Homo sapiens: one gene and its partners. The protein of the gene in region 2 interacts with the protein of the main gene of each other region in a biochemical or structural test. Each region holds a gene or a part of one and is shown on either strand. Other genes may lie near its edges. The genes, in order: ARF1, CYTH2, ALDOA and IPCEF1.

Evidence for each region.
Region 1: the proteins of CYTH2 (region 2) and ARF1 are reported together in a solved structure, tested with the Homo sapiens proteins (3 studies listed by BioGRID and IntAct, with this or other methods).
Region 3: the proteins of CYTH2 (region 2) and ALDOA form a complex in vitro, tested with the Homo sapiens proteins (one study listed by BioGRID).
Region 4: the proteins of CYTH2 (region 2) and IPCEF1 form a complex in vitro, tested with the Homo sapiens proteins (one study listed by BioGRID).

The regions. Positions count from the first base shown.
Region 1 is NC_000001.11:228,092,689-228,099,707, forward strand, and holds the end of ARF1 (ADP-ribosylation factor 1), read left to right. Parts: intron 1-4,389; 5' UTR 4,390-4,426; coding exon 4,427-4,574; exon of another isoform or gene 4,575-4,653; coding exon 4,654-4,764; intron 4,765-4,902; coding exon 4,903-5,027; intron 5,028-5,163; coding exon 5,164-5,325; 3' UTR 5,326-6,524; downstream 6,525-7,019. UniProt on the Homo sapiens protein: Small GTPase involved in protein trafficking between different compartments. Modulates vesicle budding and uncoating within the Golgi complex. In its GTP-bound form, triggers the recruitment of coatomer proteins to the Golgi membrane.
Region 2 is NC_000019.10:48,465,362-48,472,375, reverse strand, and holds the start of CYTH2 (cytohesin-2), read right to left. Parts: upstream 3,008-7,014; 5' UTR 2,869-3,007; coding exon 2,850-2,868; exon of another isoform or gene 2,843-2,849; intron 2,738-2,842; exon of another isoform or gene 2,418-2,737; coding exon of another isoform or gene 2,333-2,417; intron 2,024-2,332; coding exon 1,876-2,023; intron 1,774-1,875; coding exon 1,707-1,773; intron 52-1,706; coding exon 1-51. UniProt on the Homo sapiens protein: Acts as a guanine-nucleotide exchange factor (GEF). Promotes guanine-nucleotide exchange on ARF1, ARF3 and ARF6. Activates ARF factors through replacement of GDP with GTP.
Region 3 is NC_000016.10:30,061,061-30,068,762, forward strand, and holds the start of ALDOA (fructose-bisphosphate aldolase A), read left to right. Parts: upstream 1-4,699; 5' UTR 4,700-4,867; intron 4,868-5,824; 5' UTR 5,825-5,837; coding exon 5,838-5,978; intron 5,979-6,173; coding exon 6,174-6,306; intron 6,307-6,389; coding exon 6,390-6,601; intron 6,602-7,585; coding exon 7,586-7,640; intron 7,641-7,702. Other genes in the region: uncharacterized protein LOC112694756, read left to right, coding at 2,669-2,782. UniProt on the Homo sapiens protein: Catalyzes the reversible conversion of beta-D-fructose 1,6-bisphosphate (FBP) into two triose phosphate and plays a key role in glycolysis and gluconeogenesis. In addition, may also function as scaffolding protein.
Region 4 is NC_000006.12:154,353,789-154,361,592, reverse strand, and holds the start of IPCEF1 (interactor protein for cytohesin exchange factors 1), read left to right. Parts: upstream 1-4,789; 5' UTR 4,790-4,921; intron 4,922-6,452; exon of another isoform or gene 6,453-6,526; intron 6,527-7,804. UniProt on the Homo sapiens protein: Enhances the promotion of guanine-nucleotide exchange by PSCD2 on ARF6 in a concentration-dependent manner.

The DNA of each region.
Region 1 (7,019 bases), on a different chromosome or scaffold from region 2:
GTTCCCTTCCCTGACTCATGCCAAAGTATCCCTGAGATCTGCAAGGGACCGAGGACAGTACTGGCTGGTGGTCTGGGTACAGGCCACAGAGGCATCTGGACCCCATGTGCATCTGGACCAGTTTGGTTGGATCCATTCATGGACACAAAACGGATGTGAACTCACAGAGCTACATTTTCTCCCTGCCCCTGTTCAGGCACAGTGAGGTGTCGGGGAATGTAGCTGCCAGAGTTGACTGTCCCGTTCTTTGGTGTAATGCCTGAAGGCCACCTTTACCATTGGTCTGTGGTCCTCACTGAAGAAAGAAACATTCTTCCTAAAAGACTTTTTTTCCTCAGAGTTGGAGCCCACAGCGTGGTCAGGAAAGAGAAGTAGCCACTGGTGGCTCCTGGCATCCTCCTGCTGGGCAGCCCCTTCTCAAAGTGTGAGGGGTCCCCTTGTGTACAAGCAGGAAGGCTCTGAGAAAGTCAGGTTTGCTCCTACCACAGGATAATTCCGATGAACCTGAAAAGCGGGTTTTGGCTTGTGTGCAGGGACTCTGGTGGAAGAAAGGGTGACAGCACCTGGCCTGGGCATGACACAAGTTAGGACCCGTACCAAGAGGCCCTGGAATTGAGGGTGGGGGTTGCTGTGGACTCTTTCTCCCTCTTAGGAAACTCTATTGGGTCTCCATCTGTCACAGAAGCAGTAAATGATGTAGGGGCTGCCAGGTATAGGGTCCTGTGGGGATGCTGGAACATGCCGAGGCAGGACGTGCCAGCCACCCTCTGCCCATATGTGCAGCAGGGCCACAGATGTGCTTGTCGGTAGGAGAGACCAAGCTGTCTGTGTGCCGATGTCTTGACACCTGAGACTTCAGGTTCACCCATCCTGGTTCTGCCATTCCATTGCAGGGTGGCTTCCCTCCTTTGGGGACTCTTAACGCTTTGGTCTGTTAAAAAAAAAAAAAAAAATCCGGGCGTGGTGGCTCACTCCTGTAATCCCAGCACTTTGGGAGGCCGAGGTGGGCTGATCATCTGAGGTCAGGGGTTCGAGGCCAGCCCTGACCAACATGGTGAAACCCCGTCTCTACTAAAAATAAAAATAAAAATTAGCTCAGCGTGGTGGCACGCGCCTGTAGTCCCAGCTACTCGGGAAGCTGAGGCAAGAGAATCTCGAACCTGGGAGGCAGAGGTTGCAGTGAGCCGAGATCGCACCTGAGAGGTTGCAGTGAGCTGAGATCAAGCCACTGCACTCCAGCCTGGATGACAGAGTGAGACTCTGTCTCAAAAAAAAAAAAAAAAAAAAAAGCCACCAATGGGGAGGGCCTGGGATTACTGGCATCACAAACCCCACTGCCTGCAGGCTGCATGATCTCCTGGGCATGGTTGGCGGCACTGCCCCGGGCATGAGGAGGCAGCAGGCATGTGTGGATCACGGACAGTGCTGGGGTCGAGGGGGTTGGTGACGGTGTGACACCCCTTCCCCTGAGTGGCTGGGTGTTACTGTCAATTCTCCCAAGTGCTGTGCTTCAGTGGTCGTGGCAGTCTGGTGCTGCCTCTGCCCAACTGGCAGGCGACCCTTATTCCTGAGTCCCTGCTGACTTGGTGTCCTAGGTTTATTCCTCCTAGACTTGTTAACTTGTACAGTTAACAAGCCTTTGACACCACACACCCTCGCCTCAGCTTTCCAACCCCCTAGTAATAACAACATCAGGACTCCCTGAGTATCCTCCACCATATGTTTTCCTGGAGTAACTCATAAAAGGCCCTCTTTTCGTTCCATTTCATGCTTGGGTTTTTCATGCGAACCTGTCATTATTAGTTTTTCCGCATTGCCTAGAGTTGCCCAACCCCATAATAAGAATACGTAGGTGGCGTGCCCCATTCTTGCAGGTGTCCACTTCCTGCTCCAGTCTGAGGGGGTTGGCTAGGCTGCTGCTCTCTCTCCATGTGGGGTTGGCTAGGCTGCTGCTCTCTCTCCACGTTGCTGTGGGCTCGCATCCTCTCCCTGGTTCCCTGGGGGAGCTTCTTAGGGAGGGAGCATGTGAGAGATCTGAGGCCCTGCAGTTTGGGAGTTATTTTCATTCTCCCCTAACACTTGTTGGATACTTTGGCTGGGTATAGAATTAAAGGGTTTCGAAAGCAGTGTTTCAGAGTCTTCCATTCTCTGGGGCATCAGAGGTGTCATTTGCCCCTGTGCATTCTGGAGTCCACCTTGCACCTTTATTGGGTCTCATCTAGGTCCTTGGCTTTGCGCTTCAGCCCTTTGAGGCCGAAGCCCAGATTCCTGGGTCCCCACTCTGGAACAGGGAAAAATTTCACCCCGTAATTTCGTACGTTCTTTCTTTTTAGGGTTTCTGTTGGTTGATATCTTAAGTTACTCCTCATCTTCCTTTTTCATTCTGTTTGTTTTTGTTCTGCCTTCTGAGCACCTTCATTTTGAATTTTCCTTTTCAGCTATTTGTGTATCTATCAGGTTTCTCTCCTTGTCCTTTGTTAAAATAGTATTCTGTCTTCAGTCTCCTGTCTTGGTTGCCTCCTTGCAGATTCCTTTTATATTTGGGTCTCTTATGTTGGTGGCCTTTCAAAGGCAGACAGGCCTGTCTCTTGGTGGGGGGTGGGGGTGGGCGGAGCTCCAGTTGCTTGTGTGTGGATCTGCTGGGGCATATAGAACTCTCAGGAATTATTCTGGAATTTCATGGCTCAAGTGTGTTGTCATGGCTCAGCGCAGGCCTAAGCCCTGCTGCAGCTGCTCCCCTAGACCAAGCTTGTCCAACCCTTAGGCCGCATGTGGCCCAGGATGGCTTTGAACCCGACCCAACACAAATTTCTAATAAAACATTGAGATTTTGGGGGTTTTTGTTTTGGTTTGGTTCACCAGCTGTTGTGTTAGTATATTTTGTGTGTGGTCCAAGACAATTCTTCTTCCATTGTGGCCCAGGGTAGCCAAGATTGGACATTGCTGCCCTAGGCAGTCCCAGCTTCATCCCTTGGGTCCCAGGCGGTCCAGTTTTCTCTGCCTGGTCAATCATCACATCCAAGGTCTTCCTCCCTTTTCTCTCTGCCCTTCAAGGCGTGTGTGTCATTTTGGTGTCTTCATTGGTAGTGGTTGCAGGAGTGGACTGAGAGGGCAGGTATTCAGTCTCTTCTGTGCTCCATGGGTGGTGGTCTTCCTCTGGGCTTAGAAAACCTGGCCGTCCCCAAAAAGGGAACACTACAGTGAAGGTCCTTATAAATTTCAGAACTCATTTAAATTTCAGAATAGGTGACATGTTCAAAACCAAGAGCAAAGTGTCCAAAGGACACTGATCCAGCTTGAAGGGGTTCTGTGGCTCATCTGGGATGATGGCAGTGTTAAATCAGACACGGGCGGCCAGTTCACACCCACTGAAACACACAGGCATGTGTGGGCTCTTGCTGATGTTGAGAAATGGAGAAGAGGCATTTCCTTGCCGTAGCGTGCTGGGGTGACTGGATGAGAGAGTCACCAGCGGACAGTCATGGCTGTGATTCAGCCAAAAGCCACCTGTGTGTGGAACCCCTGGTGGAGGAGGTCTGATGAGGGGTGGGTGTGCTCACAGGCTCCTGGCATGTCCTCTTGAAGGCAGAAGCCTTCCTCACTCGGGGTAAGCCCCGCTTGCGGGTGCAGTGAAGAAGCAGTCATTGTTTCAGAAAGTGACCAGTGTTTTCTAAAGTCCCTGTTCGGGATAAAATCACCTGATTCGTGAAATTGCCCACTGGCCAGTGAGGCCAAAGCCTAACAACTTCAGTGTCCTCACAGAGGCGTCTGGGCAGTGGAGGCCCTTCCTGCTGGAGTCTCCGCAGGGCTCTGATGGTGGGTGCCAGCTGACTTAATTGCTGTCCCCGATATTTGTGTTCTGCTGAGGGAACCCCTACCCTTGCGGTGTGGGGCAGACATGGCGGGCGTGCCCCATCGAGGCTGTGTCCTCATGGGAGTGTGTCCCTGAAGGTGTCCTGCTGAGTCTGGCGTGGCCCTGTGTGCTCTGGTCCTTGTGAGTGTGGGCAGGCACAGTGAGTGGTGCTCTCTGGCCCTGGAAGGTTCTGTGTTGGGGTGTAGAGGAGCCTTGCACGCACCTGGAAGCCAGTCCTCAGGCAGCCAGCCTCCCCTCCTGCATAGGCTGGGATGAGGCAGCCTTTCTGGCCATGCAGCTGTGGGGACAGCTTCCCAAGATGAGGGCAACAGTTTCTCAATTCCTGACTCAGCCATTTTCCCTCAGCCCCCATCCTGAGGTGGATTTGGGGGGCATGGGAGGCAGGGCTCTTTCCCTGTTTCCCTGCAGGCTTCCAGGAGGTGGGGTGAGGCAGTGGTGCATCCCTGGGTGGGTGGGTTCTGAGCAACCACTGCTGGGCAGCACAGAACCAGACATGGAGCACCTTGTCTCTCCAGGTGTCCCTGGCCAGTGTCCTTCCACCTGTCCACAAGCATGGGGAACATCTTCGCCAACCTCTTCAAGGGCCTTTTTGGCAAAAAAGAAATGCGCATCCTCATGGTGGGCCTGGATGCTGCAGGGAAGACCACGATCCTCTACAAGCTTAAGCTGGGTGAGATCGTGACCACCATTCCCACCATAGGTGAGGTGGGGGCCAGCAGGGAGTGGGCTGGGCTGGGCTGGGCCAAGGTACAAGGCCTCACCCTGCATCCCGCACCCAGGCTTCAACGTGGAAACCGTGGAGTACAAGAACATCAGCTTCACTGTGTGGGACGTGGGTGGCCAGGACAAGATCCGGCCCCTGTGGCGCCACTACTTCCAGAACACACAAGGTAAGTGGCTGGGGCCTGGTCCCATGGGCACTCCTGCTTCTAGAGAGGGGGGGCCAGCCCATAGATGGGGCATCGATGCCCATAGATGCGGCAGGGGGGCTGTGTTCCCATGACCATTTGACACTGGCTGCCCGGCAGGCCTGATCTTCGTGGTGGACAGCAATGACAGAGAGCGTGTGAACGAGGCCCGTGAGGAGCTCATGAGGATGCTGGCCGAGGACGAGCTCCGGGATGCTGTCCTCCTGGTGTTCGCCAACAAGCAGGTAGGCGCCCGGGCCAGCCTGGGGAATGTGAGGAGCCAGTGTGGGTTCCGCCTGGTGGTAGGGGTTACTGGAGGCTGGTGGGGCCCCTTTCTCTGTCCTGTGGACAGCCCTTCCCACCAACCCTTCCTTCCCCCAGGACCTCCCCAACGCCATGAATGCGGCCGAGATCACAGACAAGCTGGGGCTGCACTCACTACGCCACAGGAACTGGTACATTCAGGCCACCTGCGCCACCAGCGGCGACGGGCTCTATGAAGGACTGGACTGGCTGTCCAATCAGCTCCGGAACCAGAAGTGAACGCGACCCCCCTCCCTCTCACTCCTCTTGCCCTCTGCTTTACTCTCATGTGGCAAACGTGCGGCTCGTGGTGTGAGTGCCAGAAGCTGCCTCCGTGGTTTGGTCACCGTGTGCATCGCACCGTGCTGTAAATGTGGCAGACGCAGCCTGCGGCCAGGCTTTTTATTTAATGTAAATAGTTTTTGTTTCCAATGAGGCAGTTTCTGGTACTCCTATGCAATATTACTCAGCTTTTTTTATTGTAAAAAGAAAAATCAACTCACTGTTCAGTGCTGAGAGGGGATGTAGGCCCATGGGCACCTGGCCTCCAGGAGTCGCTGTGTTGGGAGAGCCGGCCACGCCCTTGGCTTTAGAGCTGTGTTGAAATCCATTTTGGTGGTTGGTTTTTAACCCAAACTCAGTGCATTTTTTAAAATAGTTAAGAATCCAAGTCGAGAACACTTGAACACACAGAAGGGAGACCCCGCCTAGCATAGATTTGCAGTTACGGCCTGGATGCCAGTCGCCAGCCCAGCTGTTCCCCTCGGGAACATGAGGTGGTGGTGGCGCAGCAGACTGCGATCAATTCTGCATGGTCACAGTAGAGATCCCCGCAACTCGCTTGTCCTTGGGTCACCCTGCATTCCATAGCCATGTGCTTGTCCCTGTGCTCCCACGGTTCCCAGGGGCCAGGCTGGGAGCCCACAGCCACCCCACTATGCCGCAGGCCGCCCTACCCACCTTCAGGCAGCCTATGGGACGCAGGGCCCCATCTGTCCCTCGGTCGCCGTGTGGCCAGAGTGGGTCCGTCGTCCCCAACACTCGTGCTCGCTCAGACACTTTGGCAGGATGTCTGGGGCCTCACCAGCAGGAGCGCGTGCAAGCCGGGCAGGCGGTCCACCTAGACCCACAGCCCCTCGGGAGCACCCCACCTCTGTGTGTGATGTAGCTTTCTCTCCCTCAGCCTGCAAGGGTCCGATTTGCCATCGAAAAAGACAACCTCTACTTTTTTCTTTTGTATTTTGATAAACACTGAAGCTGGAGCTGTTAAATTTATCTTGGGGAAACCTCAGAACTGGTCTATTTGGTGTCGTGGAACCTCTTACTGCTTTCAATACACGATTAGTAATCAACTGTTTTGTATACTTGTTTTCAGTTTTCATTTCGACAAACAAGCACTGTAATTATAGCTATTAGAATAAAATCTCTTAACTATTTCACCGGCTCTCCAGTGCTTCCACACAGGCATGCTGCCCCCAGGAGATGGTGGGTGCATCAGCCAGCTTTACTCTAGGAAGTACAGGTGACTGCCTAGGGCCGCCACCTCAGTCCACACCCTCCCCATGTTCCCTCCTGAGTGTGCAGGCACTTCTCTGTGTCTGTGTGAGAGGCTCTTCCAGCATGGTTGCCCACAGTGACCTTGATCTCGTTTGCAGTCCTGTCGGGCCCAGCCAATGAGACCTGGGCCATACAGGGCAGGGGTCAGCAGGCACCATGGAAGACCTCAGCCTCCGTCCTTCCCTCCATCGGCCTGCTGCTGAACCCCACTTTGTATAGCTGGCTATGGGGCAGGGCCACTGCTAGCATACATAGGGCTTTGTGCCAACCAGGGAATGGTCCCTGCCTGAGTGGGCACAGCCCCCACCTCTCCTCAAGATGCCATGCAGCAGGGGGCTGCCAGTCTGGGGGTACCTGTTTCTGGGATGGGGCCATCA
Region 2 (7,014 bases):
CTCCTCGGGTGTGTTCTGCAGCAGTTCATTCTCCACCAAGAACTGGATCCCCTGGTGGGTGGGGACAAGGTCTCAGTGCTGAGGGCCAGAAAGCCACCCCACTCACCTCCCTGGGAACCTCAGCATCCAGACCTACCCCCACCCTCAACAGACCAGGGCCAGGTTTCATTTTCAGCCTTCTCACAGGTCTTAAATAGCATTCTTCCCAACTCATGGCCTTTGCACTTCATGGCCTACCCTCTCTGCCTTTGCCTGGTTAATTCCAGCACCAACAACAGGGTCTGGCAAGGCACAGGTGCTCAGTACATTTTCTCTTTTTTCTGAGACCTGGTCTCGCTCTATTGCAGACTGGAGTGCAGTGGCGTGATCACAGCTCATTGCAGCTTCGAACTGCTGGGCTCAAGGGATCCTCTCACTTCGGCCTCCTCAGAAGCTGGGACTATAGGCATGCCCCAACACACCTGGCTAATTTATTTATTTATATTTTTTCTAGAGATGAGTTATCACTATGCTGCCCAGGCTGGTCTCAAATTCCTGGCTTCAAGCAATCCTCCCTCCTCGGCCTCTCAAAGCACTGGGATTACAGGCATAAGCCACCGAACCCAGCCAATCAATGTTTGTTGAATGACTGAACAGAATTCCAATTGCTTCAGGAAAGAATAACGTGACAACCTGTTAGCAGACGCAGTCCTTCAAGGGCTGTGAACTCGAAGCCCTGGCTAGACTGGAGGTTTCTCTCACTCTCTGTGCTACGAAGACCTCTCTACTACTGCTTTATCTCACTGTGAACTGTGGTATCGGTGTCCAAGGGCTCTCTGAGCACAAGGCAGCATCTAATTCTTCTTTGGGTCCCCAGCATTGCCCTACACAGGATCAGACTCTTGAGAGGCCTCAGAAAATGGGTGTTAAATGAGTATGTGAACAGGCCAGGCACGGTGGCTCATGCCTGTAATCCCAACACTTTGGGAGGCTGAGGCGGGCGGATCACCTGACGTCAGGAGTTTGGAAGCAGCCTGGCCAACATGGTGAAACCCCATCTGTACTAAAAATACAAAAATTAGCTGGGCATGGTGGTGGGAGCCTGTAAGCCCAGCTACTTGGGAGGCTGAGGCAGGAGAATCGCAGGAGGCGGAGGTTAGTGAGCCGAGATCACATCGCTGCACTCCAGCCTGGGTGATAGAGCAAGACTCTGTCTCACACACACACACAAAGAGTAGGTGAACAAAAGCCTTTCCTCCACCTGGTGAACACCTACTCATCCTTCAAACCCGACCTGAATGTCTCCTCCTCAAGGAAGCCCTCCCTGACTCCACCAGCCTGCCTCCTCCAGAGGTCCACTACCCTGATACCTTCCTCCGTCACGGCACCTTTGTGGGAGAGAGGTCAACTCTCCTTTGTGCATGTCACTTTGTCCACAGCCCCTACAAGACTCGAGCTCATCTTGGGACCAGAAATGCGCCCATACAAGTAGAAAGTGGAAGACGACCTTCCAGGCAGGGGACAAAACAGTCAGGAGGGCTGGAACACTTGGTCAGTGTTCAGTGTTCAGAAAACAAATGGACAGCCAGTATCTGAATCCAGGGATTAGGACCAAGTCTGTCCACCTAGAATAGACCCGGCACCATCACGCTTCTGGAACCCGGAGGTGCCAGAAGCCCCTGCCTGGATGTTTGCCCAGCTGATCCCAGTCCTGTGGCCCCAAGCACCTTCTTGGGGTCCATGTTGAACTTCTTCCTGCCCATTGCCATCTTCCGGTTCCGTTGCAAGGTCTTACTGCAGGAGCAGAGAGCAGGGTTGGGGGTGGAGGGTCAATGCCTGGGCATCCCTGGCCTCAGCCAACCCCACGCCCCCTAGGTCATCCGCCCCAGCCCTCACCTGCCCTCATTGGCCTCCAGCCCCTCCACCTCGCTCATGGCTTCACTGAGCTCCTCCCGCAGGCGCTGAATCTCCACCAGCAGCTCCTGCTTCCGCCGCCGGATGTTCTCCAGCTCCATCCGCTCCTCCGGAGTCAGGTCTGGGGGTTCTAGGGATCGGGGTCAAGGTTTAAAAGTCAGTGCTAGGGGCCGTGAGCCTGAATTCCTGCAATCTGGGGGCGGACAGAGCTGGGAGAGGATGTGTAAGGGGCTTCCTATGTCTGCACAGAAGAATGGGCTGGGGGCCTGGATTCCTCCCTGCAGAGGAGAAAGAGCTGGGGCTCTAAACTCTTGAGTCCTGGGGGACAAGGGGAATTGGGGCCCGGATTCCTGAGTCTGAGGGAGAAGGGGAATGGGTGCCTGAGCTCTTAGATCTGAGGGAAGAAAGGGCTGGGGGCCTCGGCTTCTAGGTCCATTACTTGGAAGGGGACTGAGGCCTTGGTTTTCTGACTCCATTACTGGCGAGGTAGCTGGGGACCTGGTTATCCGGACTACTGGGTCCATGAAAAGTCACTACAGCCGGGGGAACTGATGACAGCTCAGGAGAGTTGGGAAGGTGGGGCGGGACATCGAAGGCCCCCGCCCCCCAAGATTTCTCCCCTCCCCGCAACCCAAGCGCCCCTCCCCGGCCCCGGCAGGCGCTGGGCTCGCCCGCCCCTCCAGCGGGAATGGTTCCGCCCCGGCCTCGCCTCCACCACTCCATCCCGCCCCTCCCGCCGCCACCGGAAACAGGCTCAGCCCAAACAATGGCCTGGAACGCCCGGCTTTCGGGCCCCGCCGGAAGCCCGTCCAGCGCCCAACAAAAGCGGCGCGACAAGTCTACGACTGAGCCGAACGCTTCTGGGCGCCGCGCGCCAGGGGGAAACGTTCGCGGCGGAACGTTCAGGAGAAAACGCTCCAGCAACTCCCAGCCGACCCCGCCCCTCCCCGACCTACCATAGACGCCGTCCTCCATGGCGGCTAGGAAGGCCCGCGGGGAATCCGGGGCGGTCCCGCCAGTCGGGCCTGGATCCGCGTTGGCCCGCGGGCTCGGGTGAGCCCGCTCAAACGCCCCGGGAGCCACCGCCGCCTCCTCAGCGCCAGTCCTCAGCGCTGAAAAGACTCTTCCCTTCGTCGCCCAACCGCCCCTTCAGTAGGGACCGCCCCTCTTTTTGACACTGTCCAATCCACAGTGGGCGCTTTCGTCCTCCCCGCCCTCGCCACCAAAGGATCGTTCTCCAGGGCCAACAGTCGTACAAAAAGCCGGTGTAGGTATGTCCGGCCAGAGGTAGACGGCCCGCGGGGCCAATCGGAGTGCAGGCAGGGCAGCAGGCCCCGCCTCCGAAACAACAGAAAGCACTTGACAGGCTTGCTCTCCAATGAGAAGCCCCGGAAAAGTGTCGCGCGGAGGCGGAGCCACGCGGTACAGCCACCTCTGCGCCTGCTCAAAGGCCCTGGACACTTGGAGTCTAGGTAAACCGAGCCCCGCCTCCGATAATACGTTGCTAGGGGGCGGTACTTTGTTAGTCTTGTTGCTAGGAGGCGGGGCTAGAACTGGCTTGTTTCCGTAAGCCACACCTCCTAGCAGGCCATGCTGGCTTCTGACCGCAAAGGTTGCCATGCAACCGGGAGCGGCTTTAGGCCTCCTTTTCTTTTGCATTTCTTCTCCGCGTATTTCCCCTCCTCTCAGCCCCTTCTTACCGCCGAACTCCTTCTTTATCACCATCTATGCCCTCCCCATCCCCCTCAGCCTCTTCGGAGTCGTGGAGTGGTGAAACAAAAGACTTCTTCGTTTTTTCTTTTTTTTTTTTTTTTGAGACAGAGTCTTGCTCTGTCGCCCAAGCTGGAGTGCAGTTGCGCGATCTCGGTTCACTGCAACCTCCGCCTCCCGGGTTCAAGCAATTCTCCTGCCTCAGCCTCCCGAGTAGCTGGGATTACAGGGTTGCACCATGATGGTGCATGCCTGGCTATTTTTTGTATTTTTAATAGAGACGGGCGTTTCACCATGTTGGCCAAGCTGGTCTCGAACTCCTGACCTCATGATCCGCCCACCTTGGCCCTCCAAAGTGCTGGGGTTACAGGCGTGAGCCACCGCGCCTGGCCAAGATTTACTTTTTTCTAAATGCTATGCTATTTGGTATCGGTCATGGGGAATGGAACAGGGGAAGGTGAAATTTAGTGAAAGCACAGGCTCGGCCTTCCTGGCACCTTCTGCCGCTCAGACTCCTCCCTCATTTCTCCAAACTCCTTCCTTTAGCTTAGCATCCTCCTAAGACTCCTCCCTTCCCCAAGCATCCTCCTGCTAAGACAACTCCCCTTTCCTCAGCATCCTCCCACCTCTCTGATTCCTTCTCCCATCTCAGAGGCCTTTTTTCCTCTCTGGCTCCCCTCACGTCACGGTCCCCCTTGTCCTCTCATACTCTTGCCCTTTTTTTTTTTTTTTTTTTTTTTGAGACAGAGTTTTGCTCTTTTGCCCAGTCTGGAATGAACTGGCATGATCTCAGCTCACTGCAACCTCCACCCACAAGGTTGACGCGATACTCCTACCTCAGCCTCCCAAGGAGCTGGGATTATAGGCGCCCACCACCATGCCCGGCTAATTTTTGTATTTTTAGTAGAGACGGGGTTTCGCCATGTTGGCCAGGCTGGTCTCAAACTCCTGACCTCAGGTGATCCACCCGCCTCAGCCTCCCAAAGTGCTAGGCGTGAGCCACCGTGCCCATAGGCGTGAGCCACCGTGCCCAGCCACCCTTGCCCTTCTTAAACTCCTCCCTCCTCTGAGGCCCCTTCCCCTTCCCCTTCCCCAGCCTCTATGTCCCATTATTTGTAACGGAATGTGGTCAAGGGACTGGCTGGAATAGGGAACCCAGGCACCCCTGTAAAGAGGGAAGCCGTAATGGGGGCTGAAGTGGTGTCTGGGCCTCGTCCTCATTTGCTGTCCCTGGGCTGGGCAGGTGGAGACGGATTCAGGGCCAGGACCTAGTTAAGCTGTCGGATTAGACATGGAGGCTCCTAATCCCCTCACTGACCTTTATGAGTGGCCCAGGCCCTGCCCTCCCCAGTGGAAACCCAGGCTGGGCTGCCCTGCTCCCATACTCCTTTCAAACGAAACCCCCTCCCTGCCCCTTCACTTCCAACTTAACATCCTTCCCCAACCCTGCGTTTCCATTGCCCCCATCCCTACCTACCCCAGACACCCTGAGCTGAGAGAGCAGCCAGCTAATTAATCCCATCCGGTTATTACATGGGGATTCTGAGGGATAAAGGGAGATGGAGAAGCTGGAGGGGGCATTTGGGTTGATGCAGCACTTGTGAAGGCTGAATGGCAATGACAGTGGCTGCCCTCGGTCCAGAACACGGGGTGGGAACACGTCCTCCTCACTGTCACTGGCTCCCTCTGCAGTTGGCTCCCAGCCTGCGGGGCACTTAGGTAGATGGTAGCATGGGCAGGGGGCCAGGTCGGAGGACCCATGCTCGAGAAACACATTCGCAGACACATCCGCTAGGGCTCCCAGTTCTTTAATCTGGGGGACAGGTCTCCCCCTAAAACACTCACTCTCCCACAATGGGAAGAACCCTGGTGTCCAGAGCTACCTCCTCCTCCCCAGGTCCCCAAGCTAGGCCAGGGAAGTGACTCTGGCTGTTAGCCACAGCCCACGCCTACCCTTGCCCTGTGATTCAGACACCCGAGTTCAGAGCCAGCCTCCAAGAGTATCTTACATCCCAGCGTCTCCTGGAAGGCCGTATGATCCAGCACTGGGGAGAGGAGGGAAATCCCCAGGACTCGAATGCCCATCCCACCCTTGGTGTAGTGAGGACTCATCCTGCTGGAAAGGCCCCTGAAGAACTTCAAGTTCCAATATCCCGTTTTTACAGATGGGGAAACTGACATGAAGAGGAGTCCAAAGTGACACAGTAAGTTGGGGCAGCATTGGGATTTAGAGCAAAGCTTCTGGGGTCCTTGAAAAGGACCTCATTCCAATTAGCTAGCACTCCATCTCTAAGCCTGTTGTAGGGACCAAGGGAAAAAATAGATAGATATCTGTATTTATATTACATATATATAATATACATATGTATAATATCTTTAAGAAACAGACACACGGCTGGGCATGGTGGCTCACACCCGTAATCCCAGCACTTTGGGAGACCGAGGCAGGTGGATCATCTGAGGTCGGGAGTTCAAGACCAACCTCGCCAACATGGCGAAACCCCGTCTCTACTAAAAATACAAAAATTAGCCAGGCATAGTGGCTCATGCCTGTAATCCCAGCGACTCAGGAGACTGAGGCAGGAGAAACACTTGAAGCCGGGAGGCGGAGGTTGCAGTGAGCTGAGATCACGCCATTGCACTCCAGCCTGGGCGGCAGAGCGAGACTCAGTCTCAAAAAAAAAAAAAAAAGAAAAAGAAAAAGAAATAGACACACATCACTAGGTGTAGGGTTCCAGAGCATTCTAGACTCACCAGCCCTGGGCCTCCCCCTTCCCTTGTCCACTAATTAGCCCTGTGCCCTACAGGGTCTCACCTTCACCTTCACCTTCCAGGTCAGGCCAGAAATGTTGCTTCTGAAGTCCTGAGTCCACCTCCTAGCACTGCCAAGCAGTCCACCTGGAGGTGATGAGAACTTCCAGGCTTTGGTAATGGACAACTCTGTATCCCTGGAGCCTTCATTCCTTTTGGCATTACAGAACCACAAGAAGTCATCTAGAATCATTGAGATTCTCAACTCCATTGGGCAAACTGGAACCAGCAAAATCTCAGATATCTAGAATTGCCACTGCTTCCTTGACTCTGTGATCAGTCTACAGCCACAGAATCCTGATTCCCTTTGGACATTCTAGAATGGCACTTTAAAAAAAAACAACCCACCCAGTGGATCCTTTCAAAGCACTGCTTATTCTCTTGGCTGGGTGCTCTACAGCCAGAAGTTGGAGTTATCTAATATCAAGAACTCTTAATCTGTCACTTCAGTCTTTCTAAACCCACAGACTAACAATGTTTTGTGCATTCTAGAAACATTACTCTTTAGTTTCTGGAGTAGTTCAACTCTCCACGTAAAATCTGTCCTAGACTCACCAGTGCTTGCCTCTGTGGTCAACCTAGACTCACAGAATCTCAACT
Region 3 (7,702 bases), on a different chromosome or scaffold from region 2:
CCTCAAGGAGCCAATCTTCTGTCACACAGCCATCCTGGGCCACTTCAGCCATTTGGCCTGACTCCAGCCCATGCCTAAGGCAGTTGCGGGTCATCCCTGTCCCAGGGGAGGACAGCAGTGCACTGGATAGACCAGTTCTCCCTTCTTGTCTCTAAGGACACGCTGCTCCTATTCCCCAAAGAGACAGACATTGTTTCCTCCAGGAGCTGAGAAGCCCTCTTCTTTCTTCTTTGCCTAAAGAAGGCAAATGATATGCTTAGATTCATCCATTCATTCAGCATTCATTTATATCTCAGACACCTGCTGAGCATGAGTCCAGTGCTAGCTCAGTGGAGAATATGGGATGAGCTGCCCCTGCCCTGGCAGACCCAGAGAGAGGCTGATGCTCCTGGCACTGGGAGGCAGAGGGCTCAAGAGGGATTGCAGGCAGGACTGTACATCCCAGCTCCATTCCCATCACTTGCCTCTCTGTCTATGCCTCCATTTCCTTTTTTTTTTTTTTTTTTTTTTTTTTTTTGAGGCAGAGTCTTGTTCTGTTGCCCAGGCTGGAGTGCAGTGGGTCGATCTCGGCTTACTGCAACCTCTGCCTCCCAGGCTCAAGCGATTCTCCTGCTTCAGGCTTCTGAGTAGCTAGGATTACAGGTGCACCCCACCACGCCCAGCTAATTTTTGTGTTTTTAGTAGAGAAGAGGTTTCGCCATGTTGGCCCAGCTGGTCCTGAATTCCTGACCTTAAGTGATCCGCCCACCTTGGCCTCCCAAGTTGTTGGGATTACAGGCATGAGCCACCATGTCTAACCATCCATTTTCTCTTTTGTAAAGAAGCCCATTACTCAGGATTCTGGTAATTAAAAAATATAAGGCTGGGCGCGGTGGCTCACACCTGTAATCCCAGCACTTTGGGAGGCCGAGGTGGGCGGATCACCTGAGGTCAGGAGTTCGAGACCAGCCTGACTAACATGGTGAAACCCTGTCTCTACTAAAAATACAAAAATTAGCTGGGTGTAGTGGCGGGCGCCTGTAATCCCAGCTACTCAGGAGGCTGAGACAGGAGAATCACTTGAACCCGGGAGGCAGAGGTTGCCCCAAGCTGAGATCCCACCATTGCACTCCAGCCTGGGTGACAGAGCAAGACTCCGTTTGAAAAAACAAACAAACAAATAGATCTAATTCTTTTGAAAACATTAAAATTGATTGGGCGCAGTGGCGCATGCCTGTAATCCCAGCACTTTGGGAGACCAAGGTGGGTTTAGCCCAGGAGTTTGAGACTAGCCTGGGCAACATGATGAAACCCTGTCTCTACAAAAAAATACAAAAAATGAATTAGCCAGGCGTGGTGGCACGTGCCTGTAATCCCAGCTACTTGGGAGGCTGAGGCAGGAGAATCGCTTGAACCCAGGAGGCGGAGGTTGCAGTGAGCCGAGACCGCGCCATGGCACTCCAGCCTGGCAACAGAGCGAGACTCCGTCTCAAAAAAAAAAAAAAAAAAGTACAAAAAATGAGCCGAGCACGGTGGTTCATGCCTGTAATCCCAGCACTTTGGGAGGCCAAGGCGGGCAGATACCTGAGGTCAGGAATTCAAGACCAGCCTGGTCAACATAGCGAAACCCTGTCTCTACTAAAAATACAAAATTAGCCAAGTGTGGTGGCACATGCCTGTAATCCCACCTACTTGGGAGGCTGAGGCAGGAGAACCGCTTGAATCCAGAGGTGGAAGTTGCAGTGAGTGGAGATCACGCCATTGTGCTCCAGCCTGGGCAACAGGAGTGAAACTCCATCTCGGAAAAAAAAAAAAAAAAATGGCCGGGCACAGTTGCTCACTCCTTTAATCTTAGCACTTTGGGAGGCTGAGGCAGGTGGATCATCTGAGGCCAGGAGTTCCGAGACCAGCCTGACCAACATGGTGAAACCCCCATCTCTACTACAAATACAAAAATTAGCTGGGTGTGGTGGCTCACGCCTGTAGTTCAGCTACTCAGAAGGCTGAGGCAGAACTACTTGAACCCAGGAGGTGGAGGTTGCAGTGAGCCAAGATCGCACCATTGCACTCCACCCTGGGCAACAGAGTGAGACCCTGTCTCAAAAAAAAAAAAAAAATTAAAAATAGGTAAATTGCCATTTTCAAAGATACCTGTAAAGATTTTTAAAATCATTCATGAATGCGGTCTGTTCGTTGCACAGAGTAGATGCTCAAAAATGGTGAATGAGACCCTCTATTTTGGTCTCATGCTGAAGAAGTCCATAAAGCCCACAAGTCATTTTCATGATGGACAGAAAAATGTGTGTGCTTTCTCTGTCTACTGCCTCAACTGCACAGACCCCGGGACTGTAGCAGAACCATCTTTTGAGCTTGACACCGGGAGGCCCAAATTCTAGCACGGGACCCAGGGCCAGTTGCTCTCTGGTCCTCAGTCTCCTCACCCATAAAATGGGAAGGAGAGAACCCTGAATCATTGCTTCTAGCTTCTGAACTCAGTTGTTCAGAACAAGGACTCACTGCTGATTTTTCAACAGCACAGGGAATTGCACTGTTCCTGGGAATGATGGACAGTACCCTCTGTTCCACTGGGCAAGTGAGATTTCCCAGGCCTCTCTGTTCCCTTCTCCCCTTAGAGAGCAACAGACGTGGCCCCATCCCACCTCCCTCAACCCTCTCTCTCCTCCCTCAGGACTGGGCACCTCGCTGCCCCCGCTGCTGCCCACTCTGCGACTGTGCCTGTACGTGCCAGCTCCCCGACTGCCAGAGCCTCAACTGTCTCTGCTTCGAGATCAAGCTCCGATGAGGACCCAGGGCCCCTGCCCTCTGGGGAGCGGCCAGCCCCCAGGGCCCATGTGCCCTCCTCCCTGAAGAGCCTTTCCCCACGCCACTGGAACCACAGATGGCCTGCCGAGCACCCAGGCCTGGGAACTGGAAGTGGCAGCGCAGGGCCTGGCTCCCTGCAGGGCAGGACTCTTGGCCGGCTGGACGGCAGCTCCTCTGGAGGGCCAGAAAAGAGAGGGGCTAGTGCTCGGGCAGGTGCCCTGGCTTCCCTTCCCCTCCACACGTCAACGATTCTATTTGAAGTTGGGCAGGGGGGTGGCGCTGCTCACCACACACAAGTGTTATAGGAGGAGTCTGGCCCTTGAGTACCGGGTACGCAGGGGTGCCTCAACCACACTCCGTCCACGGACTCTCCGTTATTTTAGGAGGTGAGTGTAGTGCCAGTATCTACTCTCCTTCTTAAAAAAAACCAGGGCTCCAGAGAATCAGAACAGCCACCATCACCGCAGGGAGTCAAGGGAGGAGGGAGATTAGAGAAGGAGCCAGGGAGGGTGGCAGGGAGGCCACGTGATCCGAGTCCCCTCACCCCTTTCCTTCCCACAGGTCCCTGGCCAAAGATTTATTTCTCTTGACAACCAAGGGCCTCCGTCTGGATTTCCAAGGAAGAATTTCCTCTGAAGCACCGGTGAGTGGGCAGGGGCTCCCTCCCCATCAATAGGGCCGACCCAAGTCTTCCTCCCCCTTCCCCCATGCCGGGCCCCACGATAGTGTGAATGTCAGGGGCTTCAGGTTTCCCTAAATATAGGTCCCTGCCAGAGGATCCGTGGCGGGAAAAGGGCAGGGGTCATTAGAGAAGATCGGGGACACATGTGGGGCGGGCAGGAGCTGCCTTATAACCAGCCCGGGAACCCCTAGCTCACTCGCTGCTGACCAGGCTCTGCCGGCTCCTTCGGCCTCGCCGCAGGTGGGCCCCTTGCAGGACCGGGCCGGGGTGGGGATGGGGTTGGGGTTGGGCCAACAGGGTCCAGATGGGGTCCAGGTGAGGAGGGGAGATTTGGACGATAGGAGCAGGGGGCTCAGCATCTGGGAGGCAGATCAGTTCGGGGACGGATTTTCTTTTGGAGAAGGAAGTCAGGCTCAAGGAAGACGTTTGGCAGGAACTGTGACCCCGCATGCCAGAGGCCGAGCAGCGGCCGGTGCATAGCCGCGCATTCTGGTTTTCTGTGGCGCAGAGGACTACCAGCCTGGCTGCGGCGGCCCGGCGGAGAGCGCGCACGCATGCGCGACCCAGCCCGGCCTGCCAGCCTGGAACTCGGATGGGGAGGTCTCGCCTCCGCGCGCCGCTAGTTCCGCCGCCTTCTCGCGCTCCCTGCGTGTCCTCTCGATGCCCTTTCCTCCGCCTCCCTTACGCCTGGGCCAGTGACAGGGTGTCGGCTCCGCGCCGATTCAGCCCGCGGGCGAGGCAGGCTAACGCACGACTGCGCGATGTGGCCCCTATGGTGACACGCGCTGCAGCCGCGAAGACCGGAAGCTGGGGCGGCCCCGGGCCGCGCGCGCTGGGCCTGGGAGGCGAAACTCAGCTTCCTTCGTTTCCGACTTTTCCATCCGCGTCCTCCACTTCCCCGTTCCGCCCTCCCCCATTGCCAACATTCTGGCTGAGTCACGGCGCCCCAGAGCGCGCCAGGCTGGGGGAAAGGAGCAGAAGGGAGGGCCCTAGCGACCCGCGGGATGTGGTCCGAGTCACGTCCGAGGGGGGTGGGGAGGGATCGTGTTCTCGGCGCCCGCCCCTTCCTAGCGCGGCCTCTGGGCTGCGCCTCTCGGGGGCGGCCCGTAGCCCAGTCCGTCGCCTGCCATTGGACGCCGCCCGCTCCTCGTAAAGGAAAAAGCTCGGCGGAGGGCGGAGTGGTGCCTTTAAAAGGCCGGGCGCCGCCTTCCGCCTGCCCGCCTCCTGCGCCGCCCCTTCCGAGGCTAAATCGGCTGCGTTCCTCTCGGAACGCGCCGCAGAAGGGGTCCTGGTGACGAGTCCCGCGTTCTCTCCTTGAATCCACTCGCCAGCCCGCCGCCCTCTGCCGCCGCACCCTGCACACCCGCCCCTCTCCTGTGCCAGGTGAGCGCCCCTCTTCACGTGCGGGGACCAGGGACCGTGGAGAGGGATCTTGGGGGCAGTGGCGGGTTGGGCGTCCGCGTGGAGGCCTCCCCCATCCCATGCCAGCGTCTCCCCACTACCAGGCACACACAGGCTCCCCGGCCCCTCCAGCCTGAGGTCCTCTAACTGCGCAATGCAGCGGCTGCGCGCGCTGAGTCATGGCGGGGGAGGAAGCCGGACGAGATGAAGGACCATTCTCCCCCTTTTCTTGCAGGGACCCCTGTGGCAAAGGATTAGGGCCCCTTAGCCCTGGCGGGGATCCTAAGAGGCAGTGAGGGGTGGGGGCCGGCCCATGTACAGCCCCAGGGTTCTCGCAAGTGGGAGCTTGGTTTCTGTCCTGGGAAACGGGGCGCCCTTCGCGAGGAGGGAAACCCCTCCGCGGTGCTTGATGCCCCCTTAACACTTTCCCTGTCTCTCCTTATCGGGCGACCTTGATTCTGAGCCCGGAACAGCTGCAGCCATGCGAAGCGACGGGAGCATTTTTCAGGGGAAGGCGCTTGCTCCTCCACGTTCTTGCCCCGTAGGAACAGTGACGATGGCAAAGCTTACCGCTTTCCTCGCCTCGGGCTAGGGCTTGTTCCGCCGCCCTTTCCTGGGCTTCTCCTTGCTCTCTTATATTTTTCCTAATGCCCCTTTCCTACCACCCGCCCCCTCCCTTGTGGGGAAAAGCCTGACCTTGGGATGTCCTTGAAGCCTTGGAGCCCGGGCCAGCCCTGGGATCTTGAGGGGATTGGAAGGAACACCCCAGTGGCAGTCAGAAGAGCTGGGTTCTAATCTCAGATCTGGCTCCGGGGTTGCTGTGTGGCTTGAAGCACAGACCTTTCCCATATCTGGGCCCTTTCCCACGAGGGTGTTGGGCCCTCTGCTTGATTCACGATCTTTACATTCTAAAATACTCCGGTTCGGTTTTGTTTTCAGGCAAGGTGACCCCATGGCAAGGCGCAAGCCAGAAGGGTCCAGCTTCAACATGACCCACCTGTCCATGGCTATGGCCTTTTCCTTTCCCCCAGTTGCCAGTGGGCAACTCCACCCTCAGCTGGGCAACACCCAGCACCAGACAGAGTTAGGAAAGGTACAGGGGCAGGCCTAGCAAAGGGAAGTTGGGCGTAAGAGAGAGCTGGGGACCAGAAGTGCCCCAGGGCCTGCTGGGTGTGGGGCAGGGGAGGTAGGGAACATTTCCCTGACCTCCAGGAGAGGGGCCCTGGTCATCGGGAGATGATGGGAAACCCTAGCTAACTAGTCCTTCCCCTCTGTTTCCTGTATCCAGGAACTTGCTACTACCAGCACCATGCCCTACCAATATCCAGCACTGACCCCGGAGCAGAAGAAGGAGCTGTCTGACATCGCTCACCGCATCGTGGCACCTGGCAAGGGCATCCTGGCTGCAGATGAGTCCACTGGTGCGGGCAGGAGACAGAATGGGTGGAGGGTGCAGGGTTGGGAGTGGCAGGCTGATCCCCTAATTCCCATGTGACACTCCCAGGGAGCATTGCCAAGCGGCTGCAGTCCATTGGCACCGAGAACACCGAGGAGAACCGGCGCTTCTACCGCCAGCTGCTGCTGACAGCTGACGACCGCGTGAACCCCTGCATTGGGGGTGTCATCCTCTTCCATGAGACACTCTACCAGAAGGCGGATGATGGGCGTCCCTTCCCCCAAGTTATCAAATCCAAGGGCGGTGTTGTGGGCATCAAGGTAAGGGGAGGGCCTCCGGACGTGAGGTTTGAGATGGAAGTGGAGGAAGGAAATCCAGGTTAGTGAGGCAGGGAATGAATGCTGGATTGGTGGCCTAGAGACTTGCATGGAGCCTGCTTCAGGCTTAGGGCATTTACTCGACATTTTTAATCCTCACAATTCTGAGAGAACAGTATCATTCCCACTTTACACATGAAAATCTCAGAAGCTCAGGGAAGTGAAGTGTTTTGCTCAGAGTAAGTGGCAGAGCCCCAGTCTGACACCCAATTCACTCAACATTTCTGTTGTCAAATAACATCCCAGTGTATCCTGTCTCAGAGGATTGTTACTAAGTGAACTAAGTGAAAATATTTTAATTTAATTGTAACTAAGTATTTGAGTAACTAAACATTTTAAGTAAATTTTTTTTTTTTTTTTTTTTGAGATGGAGTCTCGCTGTCTCCCAGGCTGGAGTGCAGTGGTGCGATCTCTTGGCTCACTGCAAGTTCCGCCTCCCAGGTTCACGCCATTCTCCTGCCTCAGCCTCCCGAGTAGCTGGGACTACAGGCGCCCGCCACCACCCGGCTAATTTTTTTTGTATTTTTAGTAGACACTGGGTTTCACCATGTTAGCCAGGATGGTCTCGATCTCCTGATCTCGTGATCTGCCCACCTCGGCCTCCCAAAGTGCTGGGATTACAGGCGTGAGCCACCATGCCCGGCTTAAGTAACTAAATATTTTAATTGTAACTAAGTGAAAATATTTGCCAGCCCTGAGATGCAGTTTAAGGGATTAAGTAAATGTGGGGGAAGACTGGGGCTAAAGAAGAGGAAAGAGGGGCACGCCCAGCTACCTAGGAGGCTGAGGCGGGAGGATCACTTGAGTCCAGGAAGTGGAGGCTTCAGTGAGCTGAGATTCCACCACTGTACTCCAGCCGGGGCGACAGTGGAAAGGGTGCTAGAGGTCATTTCCTGTGTCTTAATGTTGTTACCCTGACCCCAACAGGTAGACAAGGGCGTGGTCCCCCTGGCAGGGACAAATGGCGAGACTACCACCCAAGGTGAGAACTGTTTGATTCTCTGCCCTACGAACCCAACCAGAGCAGGTTTGGGTGCTGGGAGG
Region 4 (7,804 bases), on a different chromosome or scaffold from region 2:
AGTTTTTTACATTTTTAGGTGCTTAAAAAAATCAAAAGAAGAAGATTTTGTGATGCGTGAAAATTATAGGCAGTTCAAATGTTAGTGGCCCTAGATAAAGTTTTATTAGAGCACAGCTGCTCTTTTACATGTTATCTATGGCTGCTTTGATACCACAATGGCAGGGTTGAGTAATTGAACAGAGATTGGCCCACGAAATCTAAAATATTTACTATCTGGCCTGTTCCAGAAATAGTTTGTCAGCTCCTGGTTTAGTTGGTCAGAGTCAAAAACCCAAGTTCTCACAACGATCCCCATAGGACCTAACCATAATCATGGGTTCCCCGGCTCCCCTCTCCATCTCTGACCCGCTCTGCTCTGTTCCAGCCACACCTGCCCCCATGCTGTTCCTGCGGCACCAAAAGGCTCTGGGGGTGGCAGGATGTTTGCATTTGGGGCTCTGTCTGCGGATTTCTCTTCCCTTAGCTGTCTACACAGCTCACGCCTTCACTTCCTCCAGGCTGTCACTCAGAGGTCACCTTTGTGAGTCCTTTGCTGGCCTCCCCATCTAATTTTTAGCCTCTCCTTAGACTCTATATATTTCCTCTGCTGATTTATTTTTCCTCCTTAGCACTTACTTCTACCTAACACATTATATTTTACTTTCTTTGTTTGTGTAGAGAGTACACCATCCTGATCTGAGCATGAGAAAAGAAGTTCCCTGAGGGCAGGACTTTATTTGGTTCACTGCTGCGTCCTCACTGCCTAGACACAGTGCTCAAAAATATTTGCTGAATGCTATGGCTAGGCTTTGTGTCCCCACCCAAACCTCGTCTTGAATTGTAATCCCCATAATCTCCATGTGTCAAGGGAGACACCAGGTAGAGGAAATTGAATCATGGGGGTGGTTTCCCCCATGCTGTTCTTGTGAGAGTGAGTTCTCATGAGATCTGATGGTTTTATAAGGGGCTCTTACCCCATTACTCAGCACTTCTCTTTCCTGCCACCTTGTGAAGAAGGCGCCTTGCTTCCCTTCACCTTCCACTGTGATTGTAAGTTTCCTGAGGCCTCCCTAGCCATGCTGAATTAAACCTCTTTAATTTATAAGAGTCAATTAAACCTCTTTCCTTTAGAAATTACCCAGTCTCTGGCAGTTCTTTATGGCAGTATGAAAATGGACTAATACACTGGATGAATGAACACAAAATTCTAGAGTGAAATATAAATCCTTCAGAACTTTGAAGGCTGTGCTCGCTGACCTTCTAACCCTTAATGCTACTTCTGTGAAATCTGGAGCCCTTTGATTCCTTGTTTCTGTGAAAGTGACTTATTTTCTGTGTTTGGGAGATTTTAAGATTTTCTCTTTATTTCCGGAGTTTGGAAATTTTGCAGTGACTTGAAATTCTTCATCCTAGGCACTCGATGAGACTTTTTAATCTAAATATTCTTGGACTTCAGGGGGATCCTTTATGTTATTTCTTTGACTATGTCATCAAATAATATTTCCTGAAAATTTCACTTGAATTTATCACCCAACCTATCAAAATCTTTATTTAACAATTATATTTGCAATATCCAAGGGGTCTTTCTTGTTTTCAGATTATCTATCTTTCTTAGCATCCTGTTCTTTTTAATGGATACAATATCTTCAGGACTGTCTCTAAGGATACTGATTAGAAGCATATCTAGGCCAGGCGTGGTGACTCATGCCTGTAATCCCATCACTTTGGGAGGCCAAGGTGCACAGATCACCTGAGGTCAGGAGTTTGAGACCAGTCTGGCCGGCATGGTGAAACACTGTCTCTACTAAAAATACAAAACATAGCTGGGTGTGGTGGCACATATCTGTAATCCTGGCTACTCAGGAGGCTGAGGCAGGAGAATCACTTGAACCCTGGAGGCGGAGGTTGCAGTGAGCCGAGATAATTAATGCCACTGCACTCCAGCCTGGGTGACAGAGCAAGACTCTGTCTCAAAAAAAAAAAAAAAAAAAAAAGCACATCATCCATCATCCAGCACATGCTAGATGAGGCTCTTATTGCCAGAATGTGGAGTTCTGACTGTGGAGTGCTCATATCCACATACAATGCCTGTATTCTCTGCATGATTTCACTATGTGTAGAGACGAATCCTCGGTATGCTGCCCGGGGTTGGAATTGTGTGTGTTTGCTGTGCAGAGGCTGGGCGGACAGAGAGATTTGAAAGAGGGGTATGGGAGGGGCTGAGTTCTTACAGACTTTGAATTACTCTTCCTGTTTTCAGTCCTGTCACCCTATCACTCATTTAGCTCTCTTAGCTTCTTTTGGCTTGAGTTCCGGTCCTCTCAGGGATTCAGCACCGCACACGGGCAATTTCCTCCAACGCCGTGTTCTCCTAACTAATGAGATATTGTGGTTCCCCTGCCTGCCTCCATCTGTTATTGCTCCTCCATCGGCTTTCAGGCTGCCAGAAATCTGTTGTGCTCTCCCAAGTTCTGATGCTTTTCCTCCTTTTTTGGGTTATTGTGGGTTTATATCTTTTTTTTTCTTTTGAGACGGAATCTCGCTCTGTCACCCAGGCTGGAGTGCAGTGGCGCGATCTCAGGTCACTGCAACCTCCGCCTCCCAGGTTCAAACGATTCTCCTGCCTCAGCCTTCTGAGAAGCTGGGATTACAGGCTCGTGCCACCAGGCGTGGCTAATTTTTTGTATTTTTAGTAGAGACAGGTTTCACCATGTTAGCCAGGATGGTCTCGATCTCCTGACCTCATGATCTGCCAGCCTGGGGCTCCCAAAGTGTTGGGATTACAGGTGTGAGCCACCGTGCCCGGCCCTATAAACTTTTTATACTTTTCTCATTTTAACGGAGTCTTTGGGGAGGGAGGGAGCAAATCTGTGGTCAGCCCGTCATCTTGAACTGACAGTCCGGCCGTTTTGAGGATTATTCTAATTCTACAAATCATCTTTGCTCAAAGAATTTAAGTGGCTCTATTCTGGCCCCATAAAGGTAAATAACATGTCTTTTGAGGATATCTTTGATGATGGCATCTAAATGTCTGGTGAGAAGCCAGGCCATGCTGTTGATACCACTAAATTCCTTTAATATCACCTAGTACCATTTTTTTTTCTACGTAAAGCAGGGAACTAGAAGACAACTCAATATAGGGAGAAGATGAGGCAGCACTTCCAGAAATAGAAGTGTACACAAACAAGAAGCCGCTGAGAGAACCTTCATTTTGTTCCTGCTCAAAATGTACAGCATCTTCTTTCATTTTTTCACTCCTCCACAGATTTAGTTTACATTTTATCTTTGTCTTAGTCATTCAGGCTGTTATATCAAAACACCGTAGCCTGGGTGGCTTACAAACAAAAGACATTTATTTCTCACAGTTCTGGAGGCTGGACATCCAAGATCAAGGCGCCAGCAGATTCATTGTCTGGTGAGGACCTGCTTCCTCGTTCCTAGGTGACTGTCTTCTGGCCATGTCCTCATATGGTGGAGGGGTGGGCAGATCTCCAGGTTCTCTTTAATAAGAAAATTAATACCATTCATGAGGGCACTGTCCTCATGACCTAATCACTCCCCAAAGGTCCACCTCTAAATACAATCACATTGGGGATTAGGTTTCTATATATTCTATATATTCTATATATATATATATATATATATATATATATTTTATATATATATTATATATATATATTTTATATATATATTATATATATATATTTTATATATATATTATATATATATATTTTATATATATATATATTTTATATATATATTTTATATATATATTATATATATTATATATATTTTATATATATATTATATATATTATATATATTTTATATATATAATATATATATTTTATATATTATATATATATAATATATATAATATATATATTATATATATAATATATATATAATATATATATTATATATAATATATATATAATATATATATAATATATATATTATATATATATATTATATATATATATACACATACATATTTATTTATTTATTTATTTTGAGTTGGAGTCTTGCTCTGTCTCCTAGTCTGGAGTTCAGTGGTGCGATCTCGGCTCACTGCAACCTCTGCCTCCCAGGTTCAAGCAATTCTCCTGCCTCAGCCTCCTGAGTGGTTGGGATTACAGGCATCTGCCACCACGCCCAGCTGTATTCATTTCCCTAGAAGGTATAGAGAAACAAGAAGCTGGTGTTGAAAGGGAGATTGGGAGGGCAGGAATTTGTAATGAGATGGAATATCTCTGACTTTCAGCCTGCCATTTTCCTTTTCCAATGTGGGAAAGAAAAGTTTTGTGGTTAGAGACTCTTCTATGTCTACTGCAAAAGATGGCAGGCTAAGACTTATTTTTATCCTAAAATACGTTTTACAAATGTGTCTGTACCCTCTCTTTATTAGAGCATTATGAACGATTAGGAAAGGAGGAAAGAGGGAAATCTGAAAGAAGATTGAACCTAAAGAGGTTGAAGTGGCATTTCACCCAAAAATGCTGAGAATGACTCTGCAGATCATCTCACCCTCCATGCCTGTAAATGAACATCCTTGCCTCCAAAACAGGAAAGCAGAACCATGAACTGTTCCACCAATGTGCTCGGCAAATGAATACACTGGGCAGTGCTTAGTGATCAATGAACTCAGGCAGATGGGGTGTGCTTGCCTTACATGTACTGTGTCCTGGATATGGGCATCAAGGAAGGGTTTCATAACAATGAGAAGGAAGAACGTTAGGATTGAGGAAGTGGAGATGATACTTCCTCTTCTTTCGAAAGAGCTTTACTCTCTGATCAGCTTTGAATGTTAGTTCTGGGTTGACTGAGTTTCCAGAGCTGAGGCTGCTTTAAGTAGAATCCTCAAGCTTGGCCTCAGAGTACTATGAGGCTTCTGAATCCAGGAATAAGACTGCTCTTGGATTTACTCTCTTTGTATTGCATGTAAGTAACGTCACTTCTTGGCTGATGTATGAGAGGTAACTGCTTGACAGATCAAGATGGCAAAGCAATGGATACCCTAGCACTCTCCTTAGAGTAGTGAGGTAGGAAATATGACTTTGGGGATGTAATATTCACTCAGCTCTCTGTAATCTGGGAAGCCAGGTGCTAAAGATTCTTTAATTCTGTGAAAGCTTTGAAAGAGGAGAGAGTTGTGTACTCACTCTGCTTTTATGTTTCTTAAATGGGTGTTGTCTTGATAGGTGTTTAGACTGCAGACCACAGGTTTGATTTAGAAAAGCACAATTCAGCATGTATTTGGGTCCTGAGGAGTTCATTTGGGGAAGCACTCTGGGGCCGCCCTCTTTCGAGAAAGTGTGTTCTTTGCAAGGGAGCTTCCTTTGCATGGAGGCAGCTGGGGGACATTTTACACTTTGATAAAGGTCTCAGGCTTGCCAAAATATCTCTGGTATAAAAATGAAAGCTAGGTGTTGTTGGTTCAGAGTCTTTTAGTAAGGGTGTCTGGGGCACTTGATTTTTCTTTGCTGGGGTATATGTGAAAGTATTTAATTATAGAAGTCAGAATTATAACCCACTGAAGCATCTTTGACTACAGCAGTGGGCTCTATTAGTCTTGAGTGGCCTATGTGTTCCTAGTGCTGTCCTTGATAAAGTCTAATTTCTATCGAGTTATTTATTTTATGTAGAAAATTGAAACCGAGGGCTGGGCACAATGGCTCACACCTGTAATCCCAGTACTTTGGGTGACCACGGCGAGAGGATCACTTGAGGTCAGGAGTTTGAGACCAGCCTGGGGGCAAAATAATGAGACCTCATCTCTACAGGAAGAAAAAAAAAAAGAAAGAAAAGAAAATAGAAAATAGAATGCCGGGTGCGGTGGCTCACGCTTGTAATCCCAGCACTTTGGGAGCCCAAGGCGGGTGGATCATCTGAGGTCAGGAGTTCGAGACCAGCCTGGCCAACATGATGAAACCCCGTCTCTACTAAAAATACAAAAATTAACTGGGCGTGGGAGCATGCACCTGTAATCCCAGCTACCTGGGAAGCTGAGGCAGGAGAATTGCTTGAACCCGGGAAGCGGAGGTTGCAGTGAGCTGAGATTGCGCCACTGCACTTCAGCCTGGGTGACAGAGCAAGAGTTCATCTCAAAAAAAAAAAAGAAAGAAAGAAAGAAAAGAAACAGAAATGGAAAGAACACACATTTCTTTCTGCTCACATCATGCAAGCAAGGAAGAAAAGGGTGTAAGTTTGTGTATGTGTTGATGAACTCATTCTTTAATTTACCTTATAATTTCCTTCCATTCCTCTTTTTATAAATCAAGTGTCTTTTCTGGAGTGGGTCCATGTATGAACTATTTCAGGCAAGCTGTGTTAAGCAAATATACATCATCAGAGTATGGAAATAGGAAGTTCTTTCCTGCGGTAGTTTGCTGTGGCAATAAGAGATAAGAAATTACTTCATCACTATTGCCTGAGACTTTCCTTTTGACTCGTGCATCCTTTTGAACAGCTCACTTCTGCTTTCCATCCAGCTTGGAGGCTCTGCAGTGTGAGCTGATAATTGCAGTACAGGTTAACAATTTGCAAGTAGGTCTAATGTGGCAAATGGTGTGTGTGTGTGTGTGTGTGTGTGTGTGTGTGTGTGTGTGTGTGTGTGAAGAAAAATCCTAAAAAATAAGCTTTTTAGCCTTAAAGAGAATCCTGCAAATGGAGGAGTTACTTGTGCTCCCAAGTGCTCAGAACAGTGCCTGCTCTCAGTAAATATTTGTTGAATGAATGAATAACTGGCATAATTCATAAAATGAATGTGGTAGGAAAGCCATTGCTTTATCTCTGTTACTCAGGCACTTTAAAAAGTGAATGTTAGAAAAGATCAGAGTGGAGGAGGAGAGGAGAATATGAAGGTGTGGAGTAAAGAAAGGGTGTGTAGAACGGGGATCAGAAAAATCCCCAGGTCAGTAAAGTGAAAGGGTTGGCGATACATGGTGGTGGAGGTGGAGGTGGAGATAAAGGGGGTGGTGTTGGAAGTGGTGGTCGTAGGGGAGGTGATGGTGGAAGTGACGGTGGAGATGGTAGAGGTGGTTGTGGAGGCGATGGTGGAGGTGGTAATGGAGATGGTAGAAATGGTGATTGGAGTGGTAGAGGTGATGGTGGAAGTGACGGTAGAGATGGTGGAGGTGGTTGTGGAGGAGATGGTGGAGGTGGTGGTGGAGGAGATGGTGGAGGTGGTGGTGGAGGTGGTGGTGGAGATGGTGGTTGGAGGTGACGGTGGAGGTGACAGATGGTAGAAGTGATGGTAGACATGGTGGAGATGGTTGAGGAAGTGATGGTAGAGGTGATGGTACAGATGGCGGAGATGGTGGTTGGAGGTGATGGTAGTAGAGGTAATGGTGGAGGTAATCATGGGAAGGTCAGTATAATTTAGCCAAGAGAAAACACAGTTGGGGGCTCAGACATATCTGTTCAAAATCTATATCTCTGAACCTACCAGCTCTGTGACCTCCGAACCTATAAAGTGGTGACTATAACATATTGACTTTTTGGGTTGTTGTGTGAGGGTTAAAAATATGATTGCATTAAATGGCAGTTATCGATATCAGTTTTCAAGTTGCCAGAGCCACGCTTAAAAATTTAATCTCTAATTTCTCTTTTTTTCTTTATGCTTTGTGCATTTTCTGAATTTTGTAAAGTGAAAGTGAGTTTTTAAAAGAATCATTAATTTAAAATAAATATGATAAGCCTAGTTATCAGAATGGTTGAACACATGGTGGTATATAAAGAAATGTCATCAAGAAAATGATATTTATGGAAATAGTCTCATGATGTAATGCTAAGTCCAAAAAGGAGGAACATAACTTTTTCAAC